Linked DNA regions of Homo sapiens. The protein of the gene in region 4 purifies or fractionates together with the protein of the main gene of each other region. This does not show direct contact. Each region holds a gene or a part of one and is shown on either strand. Other genes may lie near its edges.

Region 1 (5,991 bases), on a different chromosome or scaffold from region 4:
TGGAAACCGACCACAGCAATATACATCACAGCTCAAGAGATGGAAACTGACCAGGTGTCCACCAACAGATGAATAACTGTGGCCTATCCATAAAATGGAGTATTTTCCAACATATAAAAACAAATGGTCCGGCCAGGTGCAGTGGCTCAAACCTGTGATCCCAACACTTTGGGAGGCCGAGGCGGGCGGATCACCTGAGGCTGGGAGTTTGAGATCAGCCTGACTAACATGAGAAACCCCATCTCTACTAAAAATATAAAATTAGGCGGGAGTGGTGGCGCCTGCCTGTAATCCCAGCTACTCCGGAGGCTGAGGCAGGAGAATCTCTTGAACCCCAGAGGTGGAGGTTGCAGTGAGCTGAGATAGCACCATTGCACTCCAGCATGGACGAGAATGAAACTCCGTCTCAAAAACAAAAAAAAACAAAAAAACACACAAATGAGGCCAGGCACAATGGCTCATGCCTATAATCCCAGCACTTTGGGAGGCCAAGATGGGTAGAGATCTCTTGAGCCCAGGGGTTCGAGACCAGCCTGGGGAACGTGGTGAAATTACCCAGGAGTGGTATGTGTGCTTGTCATCCCAGCCACTTGGGGGACTGAGGTGGAAAGATAGCTTGAGCCTGGAGTCAAGGCTGCAGTGAGCCAAGTTCGTGCCACTGCACTCCAGCCGTGGTGAAAAAGTGAGATGCTATCTCAGAGCAGGTCAGTGATGGCAGGTGGTAGAACATGCAGACACACAGATGTGGAAACAAAACACCTCTTCCTGATGCGAATTATTTGAGTATAGCATTGGCTGCTTCTGGGTGAGAACATCATAGAGGAGTTTTACTTTGTTTTATACATTTTCTGTCTCTTCCACTCTGAACGTACATATGTTTGGTTTGGTTTTTCTGAGACAGGGTCTCACTCTGTCACCCAGGCTGGAGTGCAGTGGTACGATCATAGCTACTGGAACCTCAACTTCCCAGGCTCAAGCGATCCTCCCGCCTCAGCCTCCTAAGTAGCTGGAATCACAGGGGTGGGCTAGTTTTTCTTTTCTTTTTTTTTTTTTTTTTTGAGATGGAGTCTCATTCTGTCACCCAGGCTGGAGTACAATGGTGCAATCTCGGCTCACTGCAACGTCCACCTCCCAGGTTGAAGTGATTCTCCTGCTTCAGCCTCCCATGTAGCTAGGATTACAGGCACCTGCCACCACGCCCAGCTAAATTTTTTGTAGTTTTGGTAGAGACGGGGTTCCACTATCTTGGCCAGCCTGGTCTCGAACTCCTGACCTCAGGTGATCTACCCACCTCAGGCTTCCAGAGTGCTAGGATTACAGGTATGAGCCACCGTGCCCGGCCTAAAAGTTTTCTTTTCTTTTTGAGACAGAGTCTTGCTCTGTCACCCAGACTGGAGTGCAGTGGTGTGATCTCAGCTAACTGCAACCTTCGCCTCCTGGGTTCAAGCAATTCTCCTGCCTCAGCCTCCTAAATGGGACTACAGGTGTGTGCCACCATGCCCGGCTAATTTTTTATATTTTTTAGTGGAGTCGGGGTTTCACCGTGTTAGCCAGGATGGTCTCGATCTCCTGACCTCGTGATCCCCACGCCTCGGCCTCCCAAAGTGCTGGGAGCCACCGTGCCCAGCCTAAAATTTCTTTATATTTTTGTAGAGACAAGGTTTCACTTTGTTGCCCAGGCTGGTCTGGAACTCCTGGGCTCAAGTGATCCTCCCATCTCAGCCTCCCAAATTGCTGGGATTACAGGCATGAGCCATCTTGCCCAGCCAGCATATATTTTATATAACAATAGTTTACTTTTTAAAAATCATGTAAACATAGGCTTGTGTTGATCAGGACAGAGGAAGGACAGAATCTGAATCTGCAGGTGCTAACTAGTGGCTTTTCTTCTCTGCTGAGTGGGTGGATGGTACTTCCTGGGAAATCCCTCATTTCTGATCACCAGCAAGTGAGGGAGCTGGCTCTGGAGCAGAGGGCAGATCTAGGCTGACATGAGCTGGTCAAGTCCAAGCTGTGGGCTGTGCTCCCCAGTCTGGCATTCCCCAGGGCTGAGAGAGTCAAACTTGCCTGATGCCATGTAGACCCTGCTCCAACAGAGGAAAAATCTCTGAGAGCTCCTTCCTTGTGGGGGACCACTTACTTTCCAGCCTGAATTCCTTCCCAGGTTGATGACAGCTTTATAAGAATTCGGTCCTTGCTGATCCCAGCTTCCTTGTAGAGCTCGATGAGCCGCCTGGCTCTGGCCACCATCGCATCTTTATCAAAGGAGAGCCTGTAGGAGCAAGAAGAACCCATCCCCTCAGATCACGCAGGTTGCCCACCACGCAGAGCAAGCTGGAGGCCGGGTGTCTGCCTGTCAGTTTTGAGCAGCACCACCGTGAGCACCAACCACTGCCCTCAACCTTCCCCTCACTGGAGGTTTGCAGAATGGCTCTGACAGCAACTCACACCCAGTCTCACAAACAGAGGTCCTCAGTGGGATCCATAGGCTATAATTTGTATTAAAAAACACTGGGCCAGGTGCCGTGGCTCACGCCTGTAATCCCAACACTTTGGGAGGCTGAGGCGGGAAGATCACAAGGTCAAGGGATCGAGACCATCCTGGCCAACATGGTGAAACCCTGTCGCTACTAAAAATACAAAAAAATTAGCTGGGTATGGTGGCGGGTGTCTGTAGTCCCAGCTACTTGGGAGGCTGAGGCAGGAGAATCGCTTGAACCCGGGAGGTGAAGGTTGCAGTGAGCTGAGATCACACCACTGCACTCTACACTGGCAACAGAGCGAGACTCTGTCTCAAAAAACAAACAAAACAAATCAAAACAAAAAACACTAGCAGCCGGGCACAGTGGCTCATGCCTGTGATCCCAGCACTTTGGGAGGCCGAGGCAGGTGGATCATGACGTCAGGAGTTCAAGACCAGCCTGGCCAAAATGGTCAAACCCCATCTCTATTAAAAATACAACAAATTAGCTGGGCATGGTGGCAGGTGCCTGTAATCTCAGCTACTTGGGAGGCTGAGGCAGAGAAACGCTTCAAGCCGGGAGACAGAGGTTGCAGTGAGCTGAGATTGCGCCACTGTACTCCAGCCTGGGTGACAGTGCGAGACTCCATCTCAAAAATAAATAAAAATAAAAATAAAAAACACTAGAGATCAGTTGCTAAACAAGGAGCTCTTGGTCATCACTACCAACTGTGGGAGAGCTCAAAATAAACCTCCTCTTGGGCCCTTGGGATGAAGACCATGGGTGGAGCAGCCCCTTGACCTCATGTTGGCATCCACGTGTGCAACTGTGGACACCTGACCAGCCCATCCAGTGCAGGAGCAAGCATCCTTACCTTGCGTCTACTTCTGTGGATACTCGGCCCGGAATCTTCTTTAGTATTTCTGCTCCAAACAACACAAAAAGTTTATCAATAGCATTTTTAATCTGGTCCTCTTGTGACCTGAAATTCAAAGGGAAAAAAAGCAGGTTAGAAGCTTCTGAGGTTCGCCAGGTGCGGTGGCTCACGCCTGTAATCCCAGCACTTTGGGAGGCCGAGGTGGGCGGATCATGAGGTCAGGAGATCAAGACCATCCTGGCTAACACGGTGAAACCCCGTCTCCACTAAAAATATTAAAAAATTAGCTGGGCATGGTGGCGGGTGCCTGTAGTCCTAGTTACTAGGGAGGCTGAGGCAGGAGAATGACGTGAACCTGGGAGGTGGAGCTTGCAGTGAGCAGAGATCGTGCCACTGCACTCCAGCCTGAGCGACAGAGCGAGACTCCATCTCAAGAAAAAAAAAAAGAAGCTTCTGAGGTTCAAGTGCACAAGACTCTACAAAATAAATTCTGTTATTTCTTTGCCAAATTTCCTTCCCTCCATCTTTTTTTTTCTCTTAAAACATTTTTTTATTGTGGCCAAATAATACATATAACATAAAATTTCCCATCTTATCCTTTTTTTTTTCCCCCAAGACAGGGTCTCCAGCTAAGGCTGGAAGCACAGTAGTGTGATTATGGCTCATTACAGCCTTGACCTCCCGGGCTCAAGTGATCCTCCTGCCTCAGCCTCCCAAGTAGCTGGGACTACAGCTGCACACCTCTATACCTGGCTAATTTTTTTGTTTTGTTGAGATGGAGTGTCACTCTGTCGCCCAGGCTGGAGTGCAGTGGCACAATCTCGGCTCTGCCAGCTCTGCCCCCCGCGGTTCACGCCATTCTCCTGCCTCAACCTCCTGAGTAGCTGGGACTACAGGCGCCCGCCACTGTGCCCGGCTAATTTTTTTGTATTTTTGGTGGAGACGGGGTTTCACCGTGTTAGCCAGGATGGTCTCGATCTCCTGACCTCGTGATCCGCCTGTCTTGGCCTCTCAAAGTGCTGGGATTACAGGCGTGAGCCACCACGCCTGGCCCATGCCCAGCTAATTTTTATATTTTTTTGTAGAGACAGAGTTTTGCCCTATTGCCTAGACTGTTCTCGAACTCTTAGGCTGAAGGGATCCTCCCATCTTGGCCTACCAAAGCACTGGGGTTACAGGCGTGCACCACTGCCCCCAGCCCACCATTTTAAAATGTATTCAGCACATTCACAGTTCTGTACAACCATCACCATCCATCTCCAGAGCTCTTTTCATCATCCCAAACTGCATCCCTCTATCTTTTGGCACTTGCAAAATATTATATTTTCTATCTCTTCAAAGTTATTGGACAGACACCCAGTGAAGTCCATGATTCTGTTCCAAAATCTGAGCAGCCTTGTTAGCCCACTACACACAGGAAGATCTTCAGCTAGACGCTCAGAGGTTAGAATTCTTGGGCCAGACTGGGTGCAGTGGCTCACGCCTGTAATCACAGCACCCTGGCAGGCCAAGGTGGGCAGACTGCTCAAGCTCAGGAGTTCGAAACCAGCTAGGGCAACATGGTGAAACCCTGCCTCTAAAAACAAATACAAATATTAGCCAGGTGTGGTGGCGTGCACCTGTAGTCCCAGCTACTTGGGAGGCTGAGGTGGGAGGCTGGCTTGAGCCTAGGATGTAGAGGCTGCAGTGAGCTGAGATTGTGACACTGCACTCCAGCCTAGGTGACAGAGCCAAACTCTATCTCAAAAAAAAAAAAAAAAAAAAATTTGGGGCCATCTGGACATGGGTGCAGGGCTCATCTGTTGATCACCCAGCCAAGCAAAGGCACCAATGTCACCCAATAACAGGAGCACCAAGGCCTCACTGATGCCACAGGGGTGCAACACCACGAGATGAGGAAAAGGGAGCTAAGAAGAGAGAGGAGAGGGTCAGACTCAGTGTCCAGAGTGGCTGTCACAACATGGTCAGGGGAGCCACTCACCAGCCACCTGGACCTAAGCAAAGCCAGTACCAGAGAGGGACCTGCTCCTGTGTGGTGCCCACGTTGCCTGCTCGGCACCATCTTCAAGCTTTGAATTATTACCCTGAAGAGAATCTAAAATGACATCTAAAATATGCAAAGCCACAGGCATGAAGAGGGCTCTACAGTTGCTTGGTTGGGTAAGGGAGTGGGGAGCTACTGCAAACAGGTACCAGAGAACATTCTGGGAGTTATAAAAGCTATTAAAAAATTAAAAAGCCAGGCACGGTGGCTCACGTCTGTAATCCGAGCACTGTGGGAGGCCAAGGCAGGTGGATCACTTGAGGTAAGAAGTTCGAGACCGGCCTGGCCAACATGGTGAAACCCTGTCTCCACCAAAAATACAAAAATTATAGCCAGGTGTGATGGCGCATGCCTGTAATCCCAGCTGCTCGGCAGGCTGAGGCAGGAGAATCGCTTGAATCTGGGAGGCAGAGGTTGCGGTGAGCCGAGATTGTGCCAGTGCACTCCAGCCTGGACAACAAAAGCAAAACTCTGTCTCAAAAAAAAAAAAAAAAAAAATACAAAAATGAGCCAGGAGTGGTGGCACACACCTGTAAGCCCAGCTAATTGGGAAGCTGAGGCAGGAGAATTGCTTGCACCAGGGAGGCGGAAGTTGTAGTGAGCCAAGA
Region 2 (5,991 bases), on a different chromosome or scaffold from region 4:
GCACCATCAGGAGAAGAGCTTAAGCCTGTGATCAATAGTGACATCCTGGGGACCCAGGATGCAGGGCCAGGAACCTCACATCCGGGTGCTGGGGCCACTGTACTCCCCACTTGGTGACAGATGGACCAGTTTCCCTCCCGGTCTCTAGGGGACTTGTCTCTTCCACCACTGGATAAACCCTGCTTCTTCCAGAATCTCTGCTGTCCCAAGGACAGCTTTAGCCACATGTCACCTGAGCCAAGCACTCAGCCCCTAGTGTCCCCATCCTCCTTGCTAAACCGCTTTCTTCCCGACTCTAGGGCTCTAGGGAGTTTAGTTTTTGGTGAAGGAGGACACTGTGCAGCTGTGAACTGACCAGAACTTGTAGACTTACAGAGAACATCTGTCCAGGGGCGCTCTGCACTGTGTGGATGACTGTCTGGGTCTGGAAGAAAGAAACCAGGTCTCACCCAGGCTCTCACGTGTGAAAACCACCAGCTCCCACCAGAGGGCGCCACACGGCAGGCACCCTCCAGGGGGCGTAACAAGCCCAATGGCCCCACAGACCCCACAGAGGGTGGGCCCAGGTGTCTCTTCTCTCAAGGGGATGAGCGAGGGGCAAAGGTTAGAACCCTGGAGAAGACAGATGGGGACGCTGGTGGCTCTGGCCCATCTTTCCTCTCGGGGAAACGTCTCTCAGCCTAGCCTCCCTTTGCAGGTGACAGAAGTGAATGTGGGGCATGGTCTTCCGTGGCTGCCCACGGGGTGGCAACTCAGGTTGTTTCATCCAACCCCCACATCCAACCCCCAACCTCACCAGGCCGGGCAGATGGTCAAGGGTCTGGTCTGTGCCCTCCCCACTCCCAATGGGAGAGGCCCAATGCCTGGCCCTGCCTCCTCCATGAGCCCAGAAAAGCCAAAATGAGGACGATCCAAAAAGAAAGCAAGAGACTTACAATGGGAGCCGGGTTGGCAGGCCACACGCCGGGAGGCTGGAGGGGTGAGGAGAGTCAGAATGGTGGTTATCGCGGGCACCACAGAATGGGAGGAGATGGTGGCAAAACTCCAGGGAGGCTCTTGTGCTCAGAAATGCCTCCCCGGACACACCCACCTCCCTCTTGCTCCCAAGCAAGCCTTCCTGAGCCCGTGGCACCCAGATTTTTACCCCCAGGTGTACAGGGCTTTGGGGTTGGGGGGTAGGGTATCCCCACTGGTTCCTCTCGAGAGAGAGGAGACTGGGTTTGATAGAGACCTCATTGCTTTCTGTAGCTCCCACAGCGAAGAGCATTACTTCCAGTGCCATATTTCACCCATAAGGTGAGAAGTGGTATTTGTTGAAGGCCTATTGTGGGTCGATTCCTGGGCTTCAGTGCTTTCCAACAAGGGAAGCAGCCTCAGCTCCTGTGTCCCTAGTGAGGCAACGAGGCTCAGAAAGATTAAGCAACTTGCCCAAGCTTGCCAAGGTGGAAGGGATCAAATCCAAAGTGGCAGCCAGTTCTGTCTGACTGTATCCAGCACACTTTCTATCCTCCCCAGAGCCAGGGCCAGCGCCAGGGCCAGGGCCAAAGTTGGGCTGCCCTGCAAATGTTCCCTGGGGCTCGACCAGTCCTGAAGTCAGCGTGGCAGGAGGCAGGTGCCCTGTCTGTACGGTGATGAGCCATAAGAAGACTGCGTAGACAAAGCGCCCCTCCTCCCAGTCCCCACTACTTGAGTGGCCGGAGGAAGGGCTGCTCACCTCCTTGTCCTGGATCCTGCCCCACCCAGTAGACTGTTCTTGCCCTGGCTGGTATCCCATTCTCCCTGGCTGTGTGAACCACATTCCACATTCATTCACTGAGTCCCTACTGAGTGCCAGGCACAGTGCAAATGAACAAGCCACAGTCCTGGCCCTCTGGGGCCTCATGGGCATAGGGACATGGGGGTGGAGTAACGGGGACAGACACGCAAATACAGTTACAATGGGGTGCTGTGAACTGGCATGGCACAGATACATACAGACTCTGTGGGGACACCAGGGGAGCGTCCAACAATATTCCAGGCGGGGAGGACTCCCAGAGGAGCGGCACTTAGGCAGAGCATGGAAGGGCAATTAGGCATGTGCTCGAGGCAGGCTGGCAGAGGGTGCTTCCGGGACCAGGGACAGCATATGCAAAAGCATGGTGGCCCAAGAGGGCCTTGAGTGAGCTGCAGAGGCTGCGTGAGCTTCGTGGGTTGGGGGTGAGGCAGGGACGTGGATTGGGGCAGACTGGGGAGGAATTCATATACCCTGCTGGAGAATTTGGGCTTTATTTGAAGGGCTGGGGGCTGTGAAGATTTTTAAGCAGGGAGAGGGTGTGATCACATTTGCTTATAAGAAGGTCACTGTGGCAGTGGTTGGGTGTAGGGGGTGGGGAACTGGACCCCTGTCGTCATGGTGAGGAATCCCAGAGGCCTGGACCACATCGGTGGCTTCAGGAGGGAGACACGTTCGTGCCTTGGAGAGACGTAAAGAAGAGGGAGTGAAGAATCCAGGGTGACCCCCAGGTCCCCAGCTCTGGGTGCCCAGCGGACAGAGACAGGGAACTCTTGGGTGGGCAAGATGCGGCCTGTAGGCCCTGAGTGGCCTGCTGGCTGGGGCCAGCCTCTCAGACCCTCGGTCCTTCCTACTGTCTGCTCGGCCACCCAGGGCCTCTGTGTTGAACTCACTTTTTGTCTGCGCCCCCTGGGCCTGGGTGGGAAACAGACAGGCTGGGAGAACGGCACCGTGGAGAAGGCAGGCTGAACAGGGACTGTGCGGGGGTTCTGTTAAAACAAAAGGCACCGGGCAGTGAGGAGAAGCATTAATAGAGCCAAGGAGAAGCCGAAAGGCAGAGGCAGGGGCAAGAGGGAGAGACCAGGCAGGCAGGGCGATGAGGCAAGGGGGTTAGGGCCCTGCCAAGATGGGATGGGAAAGAGCCAGGCTCTGGTGAGCAGTGCAGGGGTGCGGTCTCCCTCCAGCTCTTCCCTCCCCTACCACCCGCAGGGGAGAGAGTCAGGGAAGGAGGGAATGAGAGATGAGGACCAAAGGGCGAGAAGCCCAGATTTGCTGAGGGCCTACTGTGTGCTTCGCTGATCTCAGGGAGCAGCCTCGAATGCCAAAAGGGTAACAGCAGCTCCCACCCAGCTGCTGGTGCCCTGTGGGAATGTGGGCCCAGCATACCCTAATCTTCCCATTTTTCACATGGTATTGGTATCTCCTGACCTTATTTAGTTTTATTTATTTTATTTTATTATTTAAACAAAGTTTTTTGGAGACAGGGTCTTGCTGTTTTGCCCAGACAGAACTCTAATTCCTGGGCTCAAGCAATTCTCCCACCTCAGCCTCTTGAGTAGCCAGGACTGCAGACCTCCACCACCATACCTGACTCTCCTGACCTTTTAGATGTTGGCAACACATTCAAAGTTGTTAAAACACAGAGGTCAAACAGACCCTGGTGTGGGCCCAGGGGGGCCACTGTGTGACCTCTGATATCTGTCTCCTCACTGAACCACACAACCACCCATGGGGGGCAGGCAATGACCATTCTACAGATGAAGAAACCAAGGCTGAGAGAGGTGAAGTTGCTTGTCTAAGATCCCACAGATGATGAATGGCAGAGCTGGGAATTTGAACTGGATTCAGTTTGGTTCTTGAGCCTGGGCTCTTTCTAGAACAATATGCCCTCCTTACCAGGATGGAAACTGAGGGATGAAGAGAAAGGGGCAGCTGAGGAGTCTGGGAGACCAAGGCAGGTGTTCCGGACAGAGACAGTAACACAGAAGGAGGGGCAGAGTGACAGAGGAGAAGGGGCGGGCAGGTACTGGGACAGGGAAGCAGAGGTTGTCCCCAGAGTGACCTGGGTAGGAGATTGGCTTGGGCCCACCCAGCAGGGCTTAGACACAGCTACGCTGGGCCCTGCATCCCAGCCCCTGGGACCGGTGCCAGGTGGACAGTCTGACCTGGAAGCTGATGTAGGACAGCTGCACAGAGCCATTGACGGAGATGGTGTCCACACGGTGGAAGGGCACGCGGTGGAAGTACTGCACGAAGAGGATCCCGTTCACCATCACCTGCCAGAGGAGAGCACATGTTCTGGGGGAGGCATCCCAGGCTGGGATGGGGACCACCCCTGAGCTCCTGGACCCTCTTTCTAGAAAATGAAGACCTGAGTCTGGTCTTCAGTGTGGGGCCAGTTACAGGAACGTGTGTGTGACCCAAAGTGCATCAACCCGAGTCTCTACCAGGCTCCAGTTGGACTTTTCGTTCTTCTGGTTGTTTCCTGCAGTAGGTTTGTCTTTCTAGTCTTAGCTCACCTGGGGTTTCATTTATTAATTATTTATTTTTCCTTCAACTGTTTTTTTTTGTTTTTTGAGATGGAATGTCAGTCTGTCGCCCAGGCTGGAGTGCAGTGGGTCAAGTGATTCTCGTGCCTCAGCCTCCCGAGTAGCTGGGATTACAGGAGCCCACCACCATACCCAGCTAATTTTTGTATTTTTAGTAGAGATGGGGTTTCACCATGTTGGCCAGGCTGGTCTTGGACTCCTGACCTGAAGCGATCCGCCCTCCTCAGCCTCCCAAAGTGCTGAGATTATAGGCGTGATCTGCCATTTCCATCCCCTTCAACTTTGATTTTAAGTTCCAGGGTGCAAGTACAGGATGTGCAGATTTGTTAACTAGGTAAACGGGTGCCATGGTGGTTTGCTGCAGAGATCAACCCATCACCTTGGTATCAAGCCCAGCATCCATTAGCTAATCTTCCTGATGCTCTCCCTCTCCGACCAGGCCCAAGGGTGTGTTGTTTCCCCCCATTTTGTCCATGTGTTCTCATCGTTCAGCTCCTACTTATAAGTAAGAACATGTGGTGTTTGGTTTTCTGCTCCTGCGTTAGTTTAAGGATAAAGGCTTCCAGCTCCATCCATGTTCCTGCAAAGGACATGATCTCATTCCTTTTTATGGCTGCAGCGGTATTATTTATATATGCATAAAATGCTCATGGGGAGCAGAGGAGAGGTGACCTCAGGTTGCATACTGAACGAATGGGGACATCCTTATCTCAGATAAGCATACTTGGACTGACTTACCCACAGGCTTCTCAAGCCCAGAGACCTACTCTGCTTGCAAGGGTAATTTGCAATGTGCTTACAAAACTATACCCTTAATAGACCCTGGATAAAGGCTGGAACGATGTCGCTGAAAAATAAATGTTACCAGTGACCTGGAGAGGAGGAATGGCTATAGCAGAGGAATGGAATGAGCTTGGAATTCAAAGACACACAACACCAAATAGCAACGTGATGACTCCTCTAGTTCTTATTTTCAGAGTAAAAGAAGCAGCAGGTGCACCTGTAGATTCAGATGAAGGTGCATAAGGAGACTAGGCAGCCATGGGTAACACCTCACAAGGAAATGAGCGTGTTATCTGTATAGTGGTGTCACTCTGGCTGAATGTCAATTTAGGTGATTACTTAAAGGCCATTCACCTGATAGGGCTGGGGGTCCCAGGGGTGAGAGGTGGGGAGGGGATTCTTGCTCACCTTGAAATCTGAGCTCTGCACCAGGAAGCAGAGGTCAAAGGGCATCCCCTTCTGGAAAGGCATGTGTGTCTTCCTCTCCTCGGGCCCCCAGCTTCCGTTCTGCCTCGTGTTGCACACCACGTACCCTCCATCTTCAAACCGAGGGTTGAAGTGGAAGGCAATGTCATTTCCACTGAAGCCAGTCTGAAAGTTCACAGCAAACCTAGGCCCAGGGAAAGCAAATAGTCTTCTGTGGCATGGATTATTGCCAGTGACAGGCACAGGAGGGCCTCGGCGCCTGTGCTTTGCATTTGTCTGGATCTTGCACACAACCTGTATGGCAGAGACTGCTTTGTTGGCATCGTTTTTGTTTTTCTAATTGGGATCTAATGTGTTTTTGTTTTAATTATTGGATTTTGCCTTTACAGCATGATTTGCTAAAAGCAAATAGAAAACGGTTAAGGAAAAGTGCTGGTATTAGCAAACAAGAAACATAGGTCT
Region 3 (5,991 bases), on a different chromosome or scaffold from region 4:
TGCTAAGCATCCTACAATGCACAGGACAGTCCCCACAATGAAGAATTATCCACCTCAAAATGTCAATAAAGCTGAGGTTGAAAACCCTGCTCTAGAGCTTCCAGGATCACCCCTGCAGAGTGGCTAATATTCTGCCAGCTTCGGAAAGGGAGGGGAAGCAAGCCTGGCAGAGGCACCCATTCCATTCCCAGCTTGCTTAGTAGCTGGCCATGGGAAGACACTGTGCAACACTGTAGAAAACCCTGCTCTAGGCCAGGCGCGGTGGCTTGTGCCTATAATCCCTATAATCCCAACACTTTAGGAGGCCGATGCGGGTGGATCACTTGAGGCCAGGAGTTCAAGACCAGCCTGGCCAACATGGAGAAACCACCATCTTTACTAAAAAAAAAAAAAAACAAAAAAAAAAACAAAATTAGCCGGGTACGGTGGCGTACGCCTGTGATCCCAGCTACTCGGGAGACTGAGGCACTGGATCACTTGAGCCCAGGTGGCAGAGGTTGCAGTGAACCAAGACTGTGCCAAGAAAAAAAAAAAAAAAAAAAAGCCCTGCTCCATGGCCTGCCCAGCTTTCCTTGGCAGCAGGGCAGGAGAAGCCAAAGAAAACTTCTCTAGGAGCCTGGAAAAGGACTGATTCCTATCCCAGCCTCCTCAAAGGGGCACCTCAAGAAGAAATGCACATCACAGTGGGGAGTGAGACTAGGCACAATTTAATCACAGCCTCAGCATCAACCCGTGGGAGCACAGCACAAAGAAACAACCAACCATGGCTTTGTAGAAACAGACATGCCAGGCTCTTCACTGAGGAGGAGGAAGAAAGGCATGGTGACCAAACCAGGCAGGGGTAAGGCAGAGATATTTACAGTCCTACAAGTGTCTGCTTGTCAGATTCGGCCAGCACTGCTGGGTTCTTAAACCCTTGTACCCGCCTTACCACTGGAATCCACCGATGGGTTCTGCAAACCTGTGCCGGATCAGGAAAGTGGCAACAGCTTCAGCTACCTGGAAATGGGAGAGATATTCCAGGCCATATAAAGGTTAGTGATGGGGCTTAGCCTTGGGCTGTGAGCTACTGTTAGATGGTTAGGCTCTACGGTGCCCTCATCCCACCCACAGGTCTGAGTGGCTTGAAATTAAAAGGACCTAGGCCCTCCCTAGCAGAGCTAGAAGACTCCTCCCCACTATCCTTGCCAGGGATAGCTCCATAGAGCTCAAGAGGAATGACGTGAAGGGCTTATGTGTGCCCTCAGAGTTACAGAATGGTGTTTTCTCACAGGAGGAGCCCATATTAATTCCTAACTGTGCCTGTGGTTTAGGGAGCAGTTTCTACCCTAATCATCCCTCTTCCATCTCTGGCTTTTGGGGGTATTGGAGAAGTAGAGCTTAAGATCTTAACCACAGGGCCCTGGGATGAAATAGCAGAGTGTCAGTAGCTCCTCAGCACATATACACAAAACCAATACCATAAGCAGCTGCCAGGGAGAAGTTGGAGAGCTGGTGGAACTGCATCTGCATAGGCTCCACAGCAGCTGCTGCAGGCAATGCAGGCTGAGACTCAGAGACTTGTCTTCTGTGACATCCAGGGTTATTCTCACAGTTGTCCTTTTACAGTCACTGAGCACCAGACTCACCTTGTCAGGGGCATCCTCATGGACTGCATGGCCACACTGGGGTAGGACCTGCATCTGGAACTTCCCTGGAGAGGAATCAAAGCAAGGCAACTTCAGCGACTAAAAGAGCCCTCTCTTATGCAGCCTCATAGGTCATTCCAGGAGCCCAGGACCTACCTCCCCATTTCCAACCTCACCTCAATACTCTGGACCCAATTATCAAGTCTTGCTGAGGATGGTAATACAAGTAATTGTAACCTTGCGCCAATCATTTCCCTTCACTTTTTCCTTCTGTCCTATTTAGTGTACATTTACTGTGGGCCAGAGACACATAGAAGAAACAGTTCTTGTCCTCAGGGGATTTACAGTCCAGTAGGGGAGTAAAACACAAAAACCAACATTTTAATGCAGCATGTCATTCCTATGATAAAACTGGCTACATGGGGCTGTAAGAGCATAAGAAAGGGAACTTCACAATCCAAGAGGGAACCAGGAAGGAAGGAAGGCTTGAAATGGCTTGGAATACAAGAAGCTTGGCATGGTGCTTATGAGAGTGGTTAACAATAAGGCTGGAGAGGTAAGCAGGGGCCAAACCATTAAGGATTTTGTAAGCTATGTTAAGGATTCAAAATGTATTATTACAATAATAAGTTACCATCTGAGCACTTAAGCATGTGCCAGGCATTGTACTAAGCACTTTCTCATACTGTCTTACAGAACACTGTAAGCTCGTAACTAATGCGACAATGATTGAGAATGAACAGCGATGACTGATAAAGAAGATCCCTAAGGAGACTAAAGGATATGAGACCCAGAGCCCCCATAAGTAGAGACAGCAGATTTTCTCAGCCTCAGATTCTCTATTTATAAAATAAAGGAATGGGCTTGAAAGTTCTTCTGGTCATTACATCCTGTGGTTCTTACCCCAGTTACGCAGGATTCAAAAGTTTTCAGTGTATTCTTCTATCCATTTTTAAAGTTGATTCTCAAAATCTACCCTATACAATTAAGCACAAAAATACTGAAATTCTTTTCTGAGATGATGAAACTGAGGCCATGATTAGTGAAGTAACCTGCCCAAGGCCACTTCATTAATTAGTGGAGGAATAAGATGATCCCATTTAGTAAAGTCCATCCTGTGCCCCTCCTCCTGCAGTAAGCTGCCTCTCTCTGGGTGCTCAAGCCTAGTCACCTCTCCCTTCTAGCTCCTAAAGTTGTTAATGCACTTGGATCCAAACACAGAGCAGCACATGGCCCTCTTGTAAGTTTCAAGTAAGTTTACATTTTACATGCCACTGGTGCTTGCCTCCCCAGGAGTGTGTCATTTCCATAAGAACAGGGGACAATGGTGTTATTACTTGCTCTATATCCCTAATAAGACCTAACACAGGGTAGGGCACTGAGTAGATGCTTAAGTCTTTAGCGAATGAATGATGAACAAATGACTAGATCCAAAACTTACAACTCCAATCTCCCTGTTCTTTCTGTTAGATCAGCTCTGATGACTAGGGACGCATTTGTCCTTCCTCTTTGGAAGAGTAGGTATAATCAGAGAGAACTCACATACACCAACAACACTGTGCCAGGTACACATAAAATAACATGTTCATGGGTAATCCTCATGATTATTCTATGAGGTGGGAATATTTCCAAACTCTTCTCTCCCATTGCACAGATTAGGAGCCTTAGGTTCAGAGAGCCTAAATTATTTACCCAAGGGGTACTATGAATAGGTGGTAGTTTTCCAGGATTTCATAACTAAGTCAGTTGGTTTGAACACAGTGCTGGCAAAGCTGTGGTTTGGAATCTATGCAGCCTTAGCCATTTCCCTTTGTTCTGTGGAATGTTCCTTATCCTCGCCATTTACTCTCTATACTCATAGGAGGCTTTCTTTAAACCAGAAGGTGGTCTTGATATAATCCATATTGAGGAAACAGGAGGACATCTCATAAGGAATCGTGATTACTTCCTGAATATAATGAAAGGCATCATTTGTTAGACTACCCGCATTTTTTTCATTTAAACTTCATGTAACTGTACTGAGATATATCATTATCTCCATTTCACAGATGAAGAAACTCAAAATTAAATAAGTTAGGAATTCACTCATACCGCAAAACTATTAACAGTGATTCAAACCCAGGATTGTCTGATTCCAAGGCTGGTGATCAACAATGATTTCAAATGCTATCCCAGTCCATGTCAACTGCCTTCAGGCAGTCTCAGGGGCCATATCTGATTCTTCTGTCTGCCCAGCATCATGCATAGGTCTTGCACAGAAAGGGTGCCTAGGAAAGGTTTCTTGAATTGAACTTAAGTGTCTTAGATTCAATTTCATGGCACTCATGTTGGTAATTACGGGCTTAGACATTTATAAGCATCTACTTAAATAAGTGTCTAAGCCCATAATTACCAACATCAGTGCCATGGAAAAAAAATCACACAGTCCCAGCTCATAGTCCTATTCTAGGCCTCAGGATACAATGTAGTTAAAGGAAGGCAAAGCCATGAAGGTCTGGGACCAGAGTTTTATATGTGAGAGCCTTTGAACAACTATTATGAGAGAATATAGCTCCTTTTGCTGTGGAAAGCTTGAGGATAGCTAAAAGAACAGTTTGAGAGGCCCATGAGATATCCAGCAGGTTTGCTACATAGGCTAGGACTGGATCTCAGGAGAGAGGGGTGAGGTGGATGTTTAGCTTTGGGAGTCATCAATATATAAATGGAAGCCATGAAATTGTCCAGGGAGAGTAAGTAGGGAAGAAAGGTCTAGAACAGATTCTGCCTGAGCCTGAAACTTTGGTCTTGGAGTTGGCACCTCTTCTTCCCATAACCCAAAAGTTGTATGCCTACTGGCTTCACCTTCACTGAGTCTTTTACCCGTACTAAAGCAAGAGCCCCCACAAAATTGGACCCGCTGCCTCCACTGTTATCTAGCTAACATACATGCATCTGTATACAGTGCTCAGCATGTCACTTTCCTACTCATTATACCCCACGATCTGTTTGAGGCTGCCATCAGTTTTTTCATTTTCCAGATTAAGAAGACTAAAGCTGAGGCAAGTCAGATAACTTGCCCAGAGTCAAAAAATTACTGGAAAAGCAGTATTCAAAACTCAGTTTTCCGAACTTCAGAGACCTTACTTTTACCATCTTACCATGCTGTCTTCTAAACAGGTATTTATACCTTTTTATATCTGGATTATCTTGAGCCTTTCCCTTTCCTAAAACTTCTAACAATAAGAAAAATACTGGCCAGCTGCAGTGGCTCACACCTATAATCTTCGCACTCTGGGAGGCCAAGGCAGGTGGATCACTTGAGGTCAGGAGCTTGAGACCAGCCTGGCCAAAATGGTGAAACTCCATCTCTACTAAAAATACAAAAATTAGCTGGGCGTGGTGGTGCATGCCTGTAATCCCACTACTGGGGTGGGTGAGGCCCGGAACTGCTTCAACCTGGGAGGTAGAGGTTGCAGTGAGCCGAGATTGGTCCCACCGCACTCCAGCCTGGGCAACAGAGTGAGACTCCAATTCAAAAAAAAAAAAAAAAAAAAAACCCACAAACAAAAAACTGATCAGTAGTCAGAATATCTCTTTTCACAGTATCATACACCTATACAGTACTTTATAATTTTTAAACACATTGCCTCATTTTAACTCTTATAACTGAGACATAGGTAGTAGTATTATAATCTTCATTTTTGGATGGATTTTTTTTTAAACAAATTAAAGCTCAGGAAAGGGAAATACTTGCCCATAATCATATAGTGTGTTAGGAGTAGAGGCGGATGTCCAACTTGGGTCGGACTCTAAAGCTCATGCTTTCTCCGTTATACCTCACTATCTCAGGATGTTAACTGCCCTATCACCCTTTCTTCAGAAAAGGGTCCAGGGGTATAATTTCTTGATAACTTACCTTGCATCTGGCCAATGGTCAGATCTTTATCCAATCTATCAACACCTAGAAAACAAGAGAATTCATTGTGAAACAGATTTTGCTGTTCACGTATTAAGTAAAAAGTGTTACAAAGTTTTAAATATGATGACATTCTCCATTCATGTTTATACCAATCCTAACTCCCAGAGCATACTCTCACCACCAGATAAAACTTTTCAGGTTGAGATTCCCCTATAATTACTATGTTAAACTGGTTCTGAAAACAAGGTTTTACTATTTTAATTCTCATAATAATCAGAATATCCTTATACCACTGCATCTAGCTCTAGACTAAGAAGGACTTGAGCTTGACCAAGTAGACAGGCCAGGCCAGAATTAGGTCATCCTTTATGCTTAGATGAATGCTTATGCTTAGTTAGGTTTAGAGACTGGGTGTGGGGAGGAGAAAAGGCATAGATGAATGAGGAAGGTACTCTACTTTGGATG
Region 4 (5,991 bases):
GAGGTGGGAGAATCACTTGAGCCCAGGAGGGAGAGGTTGCAGTGAGCTGAGATCACGCCACTGCACTCTACCCTGAGTGACAAAGCAAGGCTCTGCCTCAAAAAAAAAAAAAAAAGATTGAGACCGAATACTCAGTAATTTGCTCTTTGCCATGTATCAAAAGACCCGTCATTAATTTCTAAATCCAGCTTTGCATTTTTATTAAGGTCTAGCAGACATCATTTAAATACATTTTAACAATGTTTCCCGGCTCTTCCTCCTAGTACTCATTAAAAGATTCATGATTTTCGTAACAATCAGGGCCAATAGATAATTCTACCTTGAGTTCATCAAACCGGAGTGTGAAATGAAGAATTTCTGCAAACTGTTTAGCAAGAGCCTGCTCTCGCTCTAGATGCTGGGTGGGAGAATATGGGGTACTTGTTAAGGCTCCCAGAAGACCTCTTAATGCTGCTTCTAAAGAAAAAAATTGAAAAAAACATTAAGTTGTTTGTATCTGTGTGATATTTGTTTATTAAAAAGTGAACAATTCATAAATGTTAATTCCCAGAAAAGTTCTCTTTAAAAAACAGATGATCTAAACATAATAAAACTAATTAAGAAGTTTAAATGTTGCCATTGCTAATGTACTACACACATTCTGAATACTATTTAACAGAATAAAAACCTTAAACGGACTAATTCAAGGGTTTATAATTCTGTAAACCCAGATTGAAAATAGTGCAGAAGTGAATTTGAATTCAACACCAAAGGGCAAGTTTTATATTACTTTAATCACTTCACACAGTGTGGAATTTGGTTTTATGAAATGGTAACTATTATCTACAGCTGAGTAACTTTCTTCAATGGCACTGTGTCCACACTGTCTGTATATGCCTATGAATCAATTACCAATTTCTCATACTTTGAATACATCCTTTATTTATAACCACAAACTGTTTGCTTTCAGCTACTAAAGAGAACAAAATATGTGGTTCAATAAGCTTCTTGTCTTAGAACTTGACATTTCAAGACTACAATATAAATATTCTAATTCATTATGTGAGCAAAATGGTCCCTTTGAAATAAGTGCTACTTTTGGGATGCCAGGCTAATAAATACCATGTTTGATAATGGAAATACTAAATACTAATACTAATATTAAATACTAAATACTAATATTTCATTTCAATATTTCAAAAAGCCATAGAAATCAAATGAATTCAGTTACAGATCACAGAACTGGAAAATGCTGCTAGATTCTGGTCAGAGAAAATAAGAGCTTACAGAGTTAAACTATGATCTGATGTTAATAAATGTCAGATTAACAAACAAATATTAATGATAAATTTAAAACTTTATGTCAGGTCATCAGCCCGTAACTTTAAAAAAACCCCAGTTTTCCTATTTATGAAGATTTACGTATGAGTCAACATCTACTGTACACTGAATATAGTCTCCCATTTGATTTTTACCATCAACTATGACATGGTCATTCCAGATGGATCAAATGAGTTTCAAAGAACTTAGAGCCCAAAGTTATAGCTAGTAAATGCTAGGTATTTCTGACTCCAAAGCCCTATTCTTTCTACCACAATAAACTGTCTCTGAAATAAAGCAACATTGTACGTAGCCTCTGTAACTTTATAAAACATTAACCTCCTGATTACTACCAATAGTACCAATTACTTCTGTAACCCTACAAAACATTAATCTACTGATTAAAAACAATAGTAGGTACTTCCTGTGTGTCTGTCAGATACCAGGTACTGAACTATTTCTTCACAGACATTATTTCTCATCCATGTAATAACTCTAAATGACAGCTATTATCCTTTTTTTTCCAGTAAGTCTGAAAATGTACTGACTGGCTACTCTGTGCCAAGCACTGGGAAAATGGATGTAGACAGACATGCTCCCTGTGCCCATATGGAGCCTTATTATATAGAGAGAAGACAGACAAATGATTACAGCTGTGATATGTGCTGAAAATAAGTACAGTGGAAAGGTATAAAAATAAGACCTCACCTAATGGAAGGCCCAGGAAAAGATCTCCCTGAATAAATGACTCCTGGACTGAGACTGAAGTATGTAGTAAGGATGAACATGAGTTTGCAGACAGAAAGGCAGGAAGCCAGACCCTGAACTGAGAAGAGCATGACATACTTGAGGAACTGCAACACCACCAATATAGGAGCACAGAGGGCAAGGAGGAGGGTAACCAGGACTAAGATGATTCATACACATGTAATTTGTGGACCACATTAAGTACTCGGGCTTTGGCATCCTAATGTCCCTAGAGAAATCATCTAAGCAGAGGAGTGGCGTCAGCAGATTCGCATTTTAAAATGCTACTTCATTTGCAGTGTGGAGCATGGACTATAGGGGTATGGATGGTGTATCAAGGTGTAACAGTGGATGTGAAGAAGATCAATTAAAAGTCAAACATTTTGGGTTATATTTTAAAAATGGTTTACTTCTCCCAAGATTCATTCTTTCTGTTGGTGTTAACTGGAAAACTAAGTAAGAGAGACACCGAACAGAAAAAAACATTTTTACAAAATATTATTATAGTCTGTTAAAGAAAAAAAGAAAAATGCATCTGCCTAGACTTTATCAAGTCTCAGGGTTAATTTCAGCATTCCAAGTTCTCTACCACTTTTGGGACTGGAGTCAGGTCGCTTGACTAAGTTGGGATGGTCAGTGACCAGTAGTTGCAGAACTTTTGTCTATGAATGGCTGAGGCCCTCCATGGTAGATCTATGTTGAAAGGGAAGCTCAAGATGATAAATCTGCTAATCTGCCTTTGAAGCAGCTAGATCAGCCTCACCCTGCAGGCCTGTGCTGGCACAAGTCAGTCCTACTAGCCTACAATGCTCTGTCTCAAGAGAGAAACTGGAGACAATCCCACAGAAAATGTCCCAGAGGTCTCTGGATGAGTTGGAGAGAAAGAGAGGACAAAGAAAAGATGCCTGGGATTGGACTCAGATGAAGCTCCTAAAACAAAACCATGAGATTATGATTTTTTAAAAAGCAGATGACCAGGAGAAAATTAATAGTCTATTAAGCCCTAAGTTCTGGAAGAACCAAAGGAAGCTGGCAGATGAGTGCAGGAGCCAAAACCACAGAAGGAGGTTGCAAGGAAAAGACAACTAGAAGGAATGATAAAGATGACAAATCAGTCCACAAGCTAGGACAGGGAAGAATAACTAGTTGATTAGGAAGAGGAGGCCCCTGGGGAGAGTTTCCCTATAGAGACAACAGTCGTTTATTCTCATCAACTGCCATCTATCTACTCTCAAACTCTCAGAAGAGAACCTGAGGACATGGATTCTAAAGGATTTAAGACAACCAAGAGTCATGACCACAATTAACGGTGGGCATTTGGGGCCTTTAAAATACATTTTGATAAATTCTGCCCAGTGAAACGAAGCTAACATGTTGAAGGGACTTATTATGACCCTTGGAGGCAGTCCCTAATGTAAGCCCCTAAAGCATGAGCAAGACTGAGGGGAGACAAAGCAGTTTGTCCTACTACCTGACCATACAACCTTCCCTTAGGTATCTGCCTCAACAGGAGGGGCTCCAAGGCCTCAGAACAAAACAAGCAAGTACAGAACAAGCAAGTATGGCAAGTTTACTGTAGGGTCCAGCCCCACAGGGTCGGTGGGTTTCTCCCCGTGTGCAGAGACGAGAGAGTGTAGAAATAAAGACACAAGACAAAGATAAAAGAAAAGACAGCTGGGCCCGGGGGACCACTACCACCAAGACGCAGAGACCGGTAGTGGCCCCGAATGCTAGGCTGCACTGATATTTATTGGATACAAGACGAAGGGGCAGGATAAGGAGTGTGAGCCATCTCCAATGATAGGGAAGGCCACATGGGTCACATGTCCACTGGACAGGGGGCCCTTCCCTGCCTGGCAGCCAAGGCAGAGAGAGAGAGGAGAAAGAGCGAAACAGCTTACATTATTATTTCTGCTTATCAGGGACTTTTAGTACTTTCACTAATTTGCTACTGCTAACTAAACGGCAGAGCCAGGTGTACAAGATGGAACATAAAGGCGGACTAGGAGCGCGACCACTGAAGCTCAGCATCACAGGGAGATGGTTAGGCCTCCGGATAACTGCAGGTGGGCCTGACTAATGTCAGGCCCTCCACAGGAGGTGGAGGAGCAGAGTCTTCTCTAAACTCCCCCGGGGAAAGGGAGACTCCCTTTCCCAGTCTGCTAAGTAGCGGGTGTTTTTCCTTGACACTGAGGCTACCGCTAGACCACAGTCCGCTTGGCAACGGCCATCTTCCCAGACGCTGGTGTCACCGCTAGACTAAGGAGGCCTCTGGTGGCCCTGCCTGGGCATAACAGAAGGCTCGCACTCTTGTCTTCTGGTCACTCCTCACTATGTCCCCTCAGCTCCTATCTCTGTATGGCCTGGCTTTTCCTAGGTTATGATTATAGAGCGAGGATTATTATAATATTGGAATAAAGAGTAATTGTACCAATTAATGATTAATGATATTCATATGTAATCATATCTAAGATCTATATCTGGTATAACTATTCTTGTTTCATATTTTATTATACTGGAACAACTCGTGTCCTCGGTCTCTTGCCTCGGCACCTGGGTGGCTTGCCGCCCACATTTACCAGGGCAGTGTAGTTAAACCCTGTCAGCAAAACTGAGTATCTTCAAATTAAGCAGGTAATCCTTGCCCTGTCCCATTGTAAGTATGCAAACTGGCAAGGGATCAGGGTCCTTCTTCTGAAGTATAACCCATGGTGTATCTGTAGTGCTCAGGCCAAGAAACCTTCTCCTTAGAACTGCAAGATTCTGAAGGATCATGTGTGTCTTCATAGTTGCATGCTGCTCCATGGTGCTGTTTGTGCTGGAATAGCACCCATGATGGGACACACACCACGAGACCGATTAATTCCCATGGTAAAAATATAACACTTAAGTCCAACTAGTTTGGCCTATTTTACAATTATTCTTTGTGTATTGGGATATGCTAAAAGACCAAGATGAGCTTGAATAGCATCTGAGCACCATCAAAAGCAATTTAACTATAAATGCAGCCAGAAACCAGCGTAAGAAAAGCTGTATATAGTAGAGAAGACAACCAAGACAGAAAACCTAGGCTGATTGGGTTATAAAGTGCAAAGCTACAAACTATAGAGACTCTTGATTGAAAGACAAATACTGTAAAATAACTAATACTAAAATTGGGAAAATAAATTACAATTCTTATTTCCAGTAAGAAAAAGATAATTTATACAATATTTCTATCCAAACTACTGTCTGTCTTAACATTACATTTAACAGGCTGTACTGCATCTAAAGGAAAAACAGCAACTGTCTTACTTTTTTTTAAGAACATAGGCATTTTTAAAAAATGGAACTTCAACTTCAGAAGTTACAAATACAAATGGCCAAATAGCAAATATAAATATAGTAAGATATTAAAAAACATGAAGCAATAAAAACTTATTACAAACTAGAAAGCACAAGTCCTAACTAATGGAGGCAGAGATGGTTTGCCATGTGGTTCTGGCTCTCTAACATGCAGATCAATTATTGCTAGTTGGAGGCTTAAAGAAAAAAAAAAAAAAAACCATACAGTGACCAAGTGTTAAACCTGGCAACTAAGTAGAAATTTTCAAAATTATGTGGGCCAGACAAATCACATCTCTCAAGTCTAAATTTAGCTTTTGGGTCCCCAGTTTGACTTCAGTCTTACAGTATATACCCCCTGGTTTCTGGCTTATGTATTTAAAAAACAATCACAGTATGATTTTCTTATGATTAATTTGTAATGTTTATACATTTCAAAAATTCAAACTATATGGAAGTACGTGTTTTAACTACATTCAAATCGTCCTAATTTCTGACACACATCTATACTATTCCTCTCCTGTGTCTATTCACTGTACAAAATAAAGTGCTTCACATTTACAACTTTAAAATCAAACAAAGAGCTAACTGGCTAAATCTTACCTGCTCTGCCTCCTCCTC
Region 5 (5,991 bases), on a different chromosome or scaffold from region 4:
CTGAAGCAGGAGAATTGCTTGAACCTGGGAGGCGGAAGTTACAGTGAGCCGTGATCATGCCATTGCACTCCAGCCTGGGCGACAGAGTGAGACTCTGCCTCAAAAAAAAAAAAAAAAAATGAAAAGAAAAGAAAGAAAAGAAGAGTGGTGTGAGAGCTAAACGTACCTGGAGTTTAAGTCTACCACTTAGCAACCCTGTGACCTTGGGAAAGTTATAATCTCCCTGAGCTTTATTTTCCTTATTTTGTAAAAGAGGCCAGTAATTTTTCAATATTGTTATGCAAATTAACATAGTATATCTATTTTCTTTTTCTTTTTCTTTTTTTGAGACGAAAGGCTCTGTCGCCAGGCTGGAGTATGGTGCAGTAGCACAGTCATGGCTCATTGCAGCCTCAACCTCCTGGTCTCAAGTGATCTTCTCACCTCAGCCTCTTGAGTAACTGGAACCACAAATGTGTACCATCATGCGCAGCTACTTTAAAAAAAAAAAAAACAAAAAAAACACTTTTTTTTTAGAGACATGGTCTCACTATGTTGCCCAGGCTGGTCCATTTTCATTAATGATAGCATTTCACAGCAACTAACAGATCTGAAAAATAGTGGCTTAAACAAGATGGACTGGCATGGTGGTTCCATTTTGTTACCAGTGTTCTAGGCGCCTCTGTCATAATATTGGCAGCACAGCTCTTATCAAAACTTCTGTGTATCAGGGAGGAAAGGGGAGGAAAGACAAAAGGTGCTTGCCAGCTGATTCACCTTTTTTAATTAACAGAACTTTCCCAGGCCTGTAATCCCAGTGCTTTGGGAGGCTGAGACAGGAGGATCACTTGAGGCCAGGAGTTCAAGACCAGCCTGTGGAACATAGCAGAACCCATCTCTATAAAAAAAATTTAAAAATTAGCCAAGTGTGGTGACACACACCTGTAATCCCAACTACTCAGGAGGCTGAGGTGGGAGAATCACTTGAGCCCAGGAGTTCCAGGCTGCATGAGCTGAGATCACACTTCTGTACTCCAGCCTGGGCAACAATGATACCCTATCTCTAAAAAAAAAAAGATAGAAAAAAAGAAAAGCCGGGTGCGGTGGCTCACACCTGTAATCCCAGCACTTTGGGAGGCCAAGGAGGGCAGATCATGAGGTCAGGAGATCAAGACCATCCAGGCCAACATGGTGAAACCCCATCTCTACTAAAAATACAAAAATTAGCTGGGTGCGGTGGTGCGTGCCTGTAATTCCAGCTACTCAGGAAGCTGAGGCAGGAGAATGGCTTGAACCCTGGAGGTGGAGATTGCAGTGAGCCAAGATTGCGCCACTGCACTCCAGCCTGGTGACAAAGCGAGACTCCGTCTCAAAAAAAAAAAACTTTCCCAGAAGACCCAGAACTTAGTAATGTGACCACTCCTTACCTACAATGGAGGGTAGAAAATGTATTTCAGCCACATTGCCACCCTTACTAAAATTAGATTTCTCCGAGTAAGAAGAATGGCTCCTAGGAAGGTATTTCACAGTTTCTGCCAGGGTATCTATTAAGAGTACTATGTCTGGGAGTTGCTTTTATAAATCAGTGGGAAGTCAATTTGTCTGTTCGTTCAACAAATAATTATCATGCTTAATAAACCAAGGCACAATTCTAGAGTTTGTTCTATTTAATAGTTTGGATGCCAAATTAGGTTAATTAAAAATAGAGGACTCCCAGTCTAGGTAACATAGTGAAACCCCGTCTCTACAAAAAAATTTAAAAATTATCCAGGTGTGGTGGCTCACACCTATGGTCCCAGCTACTTGGGAGGCTGAAGTGAGAGGATTGCTGGGCTCAGGGTGTCAAGGCTGCAGTGAGATCTAGACAGATCTTTTCTTTTTCATTCCATATACATGTATCTAATTTACACATTAATAATAATCAAGGAGAAAAGAAATATTACAACATCTAGTAGTTTTTTTATGTTTGTAAATAACCCAGTTTCCCTCTTATTTTCTCCCTTAACCAACATCATTCAAAATTATTGTTCAGTTATTACCAGGACTCATTTTACTGGATTTGCGACAAAACTGTAGAGTTTAGAACAAAGATTAACCTTAGGTTCATTAATTCCTTGTTTGTTGTATACAGATGCACACACATTTTTCTGGGAAGATGATCCAGTAACTTTCCTCTAGTTCTCCAAGGGGTCCGTTTCCCATATACTTGACTCTACTTAACTGCCTCAGTTCTACCTGCTGGGTTTTTTTAACTTTTTACCTGAGACCTATGTTTTCTACCTCCTCTGTTTCTCTTACTGACCTAGAAGGTGGGATAGCCTTTAAGACTTATAATTTAAAGACTTAAATGTCTATATTTAGGGGTAAAATCAAAATGTTTTGGTTGAAGTACCCATTTTGTGAAAATGCAAAATAAAATGCAAATCTGCTAATTTTTTTTTTTTTTTTTTTTTGAGACAGAGTCTCACTCTGTCGCCCAGGCTGGAATGCAGTGGCGCCATCTCAGCTCACTGCAAGCTCACCCTCCTGGGTTCACGCCATTCTCCTGCCTCAGCCTCCCAAGTAGCTGGGACTACAGGCGCCCGCCACCGCGCCCGGCTAATTTTTTGTATTTTTAGTAGAGACGGGGTTTCACCATGTTAGCCAGGATGGTCTCAATCTCCCGACCTCGTGATCCGCCCGCCTTGGCCTCCCAAAGTGCTGAGATTACAGGCGTGAGCCACTGCGCCAGGCCTACAAATCTGTTAATTTTTTAAAGTACATACCAGTGGTTGAGAATCCCTAATCTGAAAATTAAAAATTAGGAACTTTTTGAGCACTGACATGATGCCACAAGTAGAAAATTCCACATCTGACCTCATGTGACGGGTTGCAGTCAAAATGCAGTCAGATGACCAGGTGCAGTGACTCACGCTTGTAATCCTAGCACTTTGGGAGGCCAAGGCGGGCAGATCACGAGGTCAAGAGATCAAAAGCCACTCTTTCTTAGCAAATGTTTTAGACTGAAATTTCCAAAACTTGTATTTGAAGAATAGCTCTCAATATATTTTTTCTTGGTGGTAACATGAAGTGGGATTGCTGGAGGCTGTTAACTGTCAGTCTTCTCTTCTCCTATTTTTATTACTTCTTGTTGTTATCCAGAAGCAAAAAGTAGAAATGCCATAATTAGGCCAGACGTGGTGGCTCATGCCTATAACCCCAGCACTTTGGGAGGCTGACGTGGGCAGATCACTTGAGGTCAAGAGTTTGAGACCAGCCTGGCCAATGTGGTGAAATCCCATCTCTACTAAAAACACAAAAATTAGCTGGGCATGGGGGCATGTGCCTGTAGTCCCAGCTGCTTGGGAGGCTGATGCAGAATTGCTTGAACCTGAAGGAAGAGGCTACAATGAGTCGAGATAGTGCTACTGCACTCCAACCTGGGCAATGGAAGTGAGACTCCATCTCAAAAAAAAAAAAAAAGAAAGAAATACTATAATTAAACAATTAACTGCTGGGCTTGGTGGCTCATGCCTGAATCCCAACACTTTGGGAGGCCAAGGCGGGCGGATCACCTGAGGTCAGGCCAGACCAGCCTGGCCAACATGCTGAAACTCCGTCTCTACTAAAAATACAAAAATTAGCCAGGCGTGGTGGTAGGCTCCTATAATCCCAGCTACTTGGGAGGCTGAGGCAGGAGAATTGCTTGAACCCAGGAGGAGAGGTTGCAGTGAGCCGAGATCACACCATTGCACTCCAGTCTGGGGGACCAGAGCGAGACTTCATCTCAAAAAAAAAAAAAACAAGTACAAAGTGGAGTGGTCACCTACTTTAGGACTCTCATTGTAGGGCAGTATTGCTAATAGTGTCATCTACATACTTTCTCCATGTATTTCCTGTAGCAAAGAAATCTTTATGACTAGTGTGTTGTAATAAGACATACATATTTGGACTTCATCCGTGGTTTCCAGCATAGTTCTTTTAAAAACCTTGCAATTTCCTGAGTGACAGGAGTGAAAGGAATATTTTATTGTTCATAATAAACCCCATTCAACCATACCTGAGTTTATGCTAATGAGGTGACTCTTGGTGGGGTTCTAGATAGCTTCAGTATGGAGGGCTGGTTGCCAGAGGAATCAGCCATGTATTTTTAGAGGGGTGGAACATTCAGTGACCTCCTATTCTTGACCTCTGGGAAGGAGAGAAGGGCTGGAGATTGAGTTCCAGTCACTAGTGGCCAGTGATTTAATTAATCGTGCCTACCTAATGTGCCCTCCGTAAAAACCCTAAACAGGGTTTGAGAGCTTCCAGGTTGGTGAACACAAGTAGATACTAAGAGGGTAACACACCCCGAGAAGAGCATGGAAGCGCTGTGCCCCTCTCTCAGACTTTGCCCTATGCATCTCCTCCATTTGGTTGTTCCTGAGTTGTAACCTTTATAATAGCCCATAGTAATAAATAAAGTGCTTTCCTAAGTTCTATGAGCCATTTTTGAAAATTATTGAACAGAGCTGGGGGGCATGAAAAATCCCAAATTATATCATGGTTAGTCAGATAGTACAGATCACAATCGGGACTTGGAACTGGCATCCGAAGTGGTAGGGGCTGTCTTGTGGGATTAACCGGGGTCTCTGTTCACTCCTTGTAGTTAGTGTCACAATTAAATTATAGGGCCAGGTGTGGGGGCATGCATTTGTAGTCCCAGTGAGATCCTGTCTTTAAAAAATTAAATAAAATTTTGAAAAAATAATCAAGTTGTGGGATACCCAGAGAATTGGAGAACTGGGAAAACCCACACATTTGGTGTTGGAAGTATGAAAGTGTAGAAAAACAGTTTGTTTTCCCTTTAACTGGTTATATTAGTCCCATTTGTAGCTGTTCTCTGTCACTGTATGAATGGGGTAGAATATAATTTTAGGTACTATGGTGGAAATATTCCTACCCTTTGTATTGTTGACTAAGGGCATAAAAGTAAATTATTTCTGAATTTTGATCCATATCTATGATGGAAAATCAACATTTTGTTGTACATTCAACTAGAGAACTCAGAGATCTGTAAGACTTGATTATTTTTTAAGGAGACTGTAATTGTCATAGATATGGATATCATGTTTCAATTTAAGGAAATTTTCATATGTTATGTTGTTTCTCTTTCAGGGTAATAGATGGTCTGGAAACTCTAGATGAGTTGGAGAAGTTGCCAGTAAATGAGAAGACATACCGACCTCTTAATGATGTACACATTAAGGACATAACTATTCATGCCAACCCATTTGCTCAGTAGCTATGATAGACCTGGACAAATAACTTGACAAATTGCTGGAACACACTTATTGTGGTTTACCCGGTTTTAATTATGTCAGAGATTGCATCATCCTTCTGCTTGTTTACAACTATGATCTTCTATGAAATGGTGGTACCAAGGGGCGCCCAACAGCTTTTATCCCCATTCTTAGAGCATATTCTTTATTATAATGATTATCCAACATATTTCTTTAATTTTAATACAAAAAATACATCATTTAATTTTTGTTACATATGAACATTCATTTTTAAATGCTCAGCCTCAAGTGCAGGCATTTTTGAGTGGCCTGATTACATATTCCTCCCACAGCAAGTCCGTATCCTGGAAGTGTTATTTTATAATAAAATTTAAAAAGTTTTAAAGAATTAAATCGTAGGACAAATTAATTAAAATATTGTGTAAAATTACCTTCAGGCTATGTGTATAAGGTATATATGAAACGTAAATGAACTTCATGTTTAAATTTGGGTCTCATCTCCAAGATATCTTATTATGTATATGCAAGTATCCCCAAATCTGAAAATTTGGGTATTCCTGAAACTGATACTAACGGTAAGAGCTCTACCATTAATTATTCACTTTATACAGTTAGAAAGAGGAGGGACAGGATAAAAAGTTAGTCTGGAAAGGCCAGCCAATCCATTTGCTATTTTCTCTGATTTTTTTTTTTTTCTTTTTGAGACGGAGTCTTGCTCTTTTACCCGGGCTGGAGTGCAGCGGGTCACTGC

Evidence for each region.
Region 1: the proteins of CYRIB (region 4) and TALDO1 fractionate together in Homo sapiens (co-fractionation; one large-scale study listed by BioGRID). This does not show direct contact.
Region 2: the proteins of CYRIB (region 4) and LGALS9 purify together in Homo sapiens (co-immunoprecipitation; one large-scale study listed by IntAct). This does not show direct contact.
Region 3: the proteins of CYRIB (region 4) and PPME1 purify together in Homo sapiens (affinity purification with mass spectrometry; one large-scale study listed by BioGRID and IntAct). This does not show direct contact.
Region 5: the proteins of CYRIB (region 4) and PPIL3 fractionate together in Homo sapiens (co-fractionation; one large-scale study listed by BioGRID). This does not show direct contact.

The regions. Positions count from the first base shown.
Region 1 is NC_000011.10:756,403-762,393, reverse strand, and holds part of TALDO1 (transaldolase), read right to left. Parts: intron 3,445-5,991; coding exon 3,337-3,444; intron 2,273-3,336; coding exon 2,141-2,272; intron 1-2,140. UniProt on the Homo sapiens protein: Catalyzes the rate-limiting step of the non-oxidative phase in the pentose phosphate pathway. Catalyzes the reversible conversion of sedheptulose-7-phosphate and D-glyceraldehyde 3-phosphate into erythrose-4-phosphate and beta-D-fructose 6-phosphate.
Region 2 is NC_000017.11:27,640,294-27,646,284, reverse strand, and holds part of LGALS9 (galectin-9), read right to left. Parts: intron 5,714-5,991; coding exon 5,512-5,713; intron 4,048-5,511; coding exon 3,937-4,047; intron 2,761-3,936; coding exon 2,665-2,760; intron 2,453-2,664; coding exon of another isoform or gene 2,327-2,452; exon of another isoform or gene 2,250-2,326; intron 972-2,249; coding exon 936-971; intron 425-935; coding exon 374-424; intron 1-373. UniProt on the Homo sapiens protein: Binds galactosides. Has high affinity for the Forssman pentasaccharide. Ligand for HAVCR2/TIM3. Binding to HAVCR2 induces T-helper type 1 lymphocyte (Th1) death.
Region 3 is NC_000011.10:74,246,656-74,252,646, reverse strand, and holds part of PPME1 (protein phosphatase methylesterase 1), read right to left. Parts: intron 5,569-5,991; coding exon 5,524-5,568; intron 2,502-5,523; exon of another isoform or gene 2,325-2,501; intron 1,694-2,324; coding exon 1,629-1,693; coding exon of another isoform or gene 1,389-1,628; exon of another isoform or gene 1,017-1,388; intron 1,000-1,016; coding exon 932-999; intron 234-931; exon of another isoform or gene 95-233; intron 1-94. UniProt on the Homo sapiens protein: Demethylates proteins that have been reversibly carboxymethylated. Demethylates PPP2CB (in vitro) and PPP2CA. Binding to PPP2CA displaces the manganese ion and inactivates the enzyme.
Region 4 is NC_000008.11:129,855,292-129,861,282, forward strand, and holds part of CYRIB (CYFIP-related Rac1 interactor B), read right to left. Parts: intron 457-5,991; coding exon 320-456; intron 1-319. UniProt on the Homo sapiens protein: Negatively regulates RAC1 signaling and RAC1-driven cytoskeletal remodeling. Regulates chemotaxis, cell migration and epithelial polarization by controlling the polarity, plasticity, duration and extent of protrusions.
Region 5 is NC_000002.12:200,870,646-200,876,636, reverse strand, and holds the end of PPIL3 (peptidyl-prolyl cis-trans isomerase-like 3), read left to right. Parts: intron 1-5,115; coding exon 5,116-5,242; 3' UTR 5,243-5,730; downstream 5,731-5,991. UniProt on the Homo sapiens protein: PPIases accelerate the folding of proteins. It catalyzes the cis-trans isomerization of proline imidic peptide bonds in oligopeptides. May be involved in pre-mRNA splicing.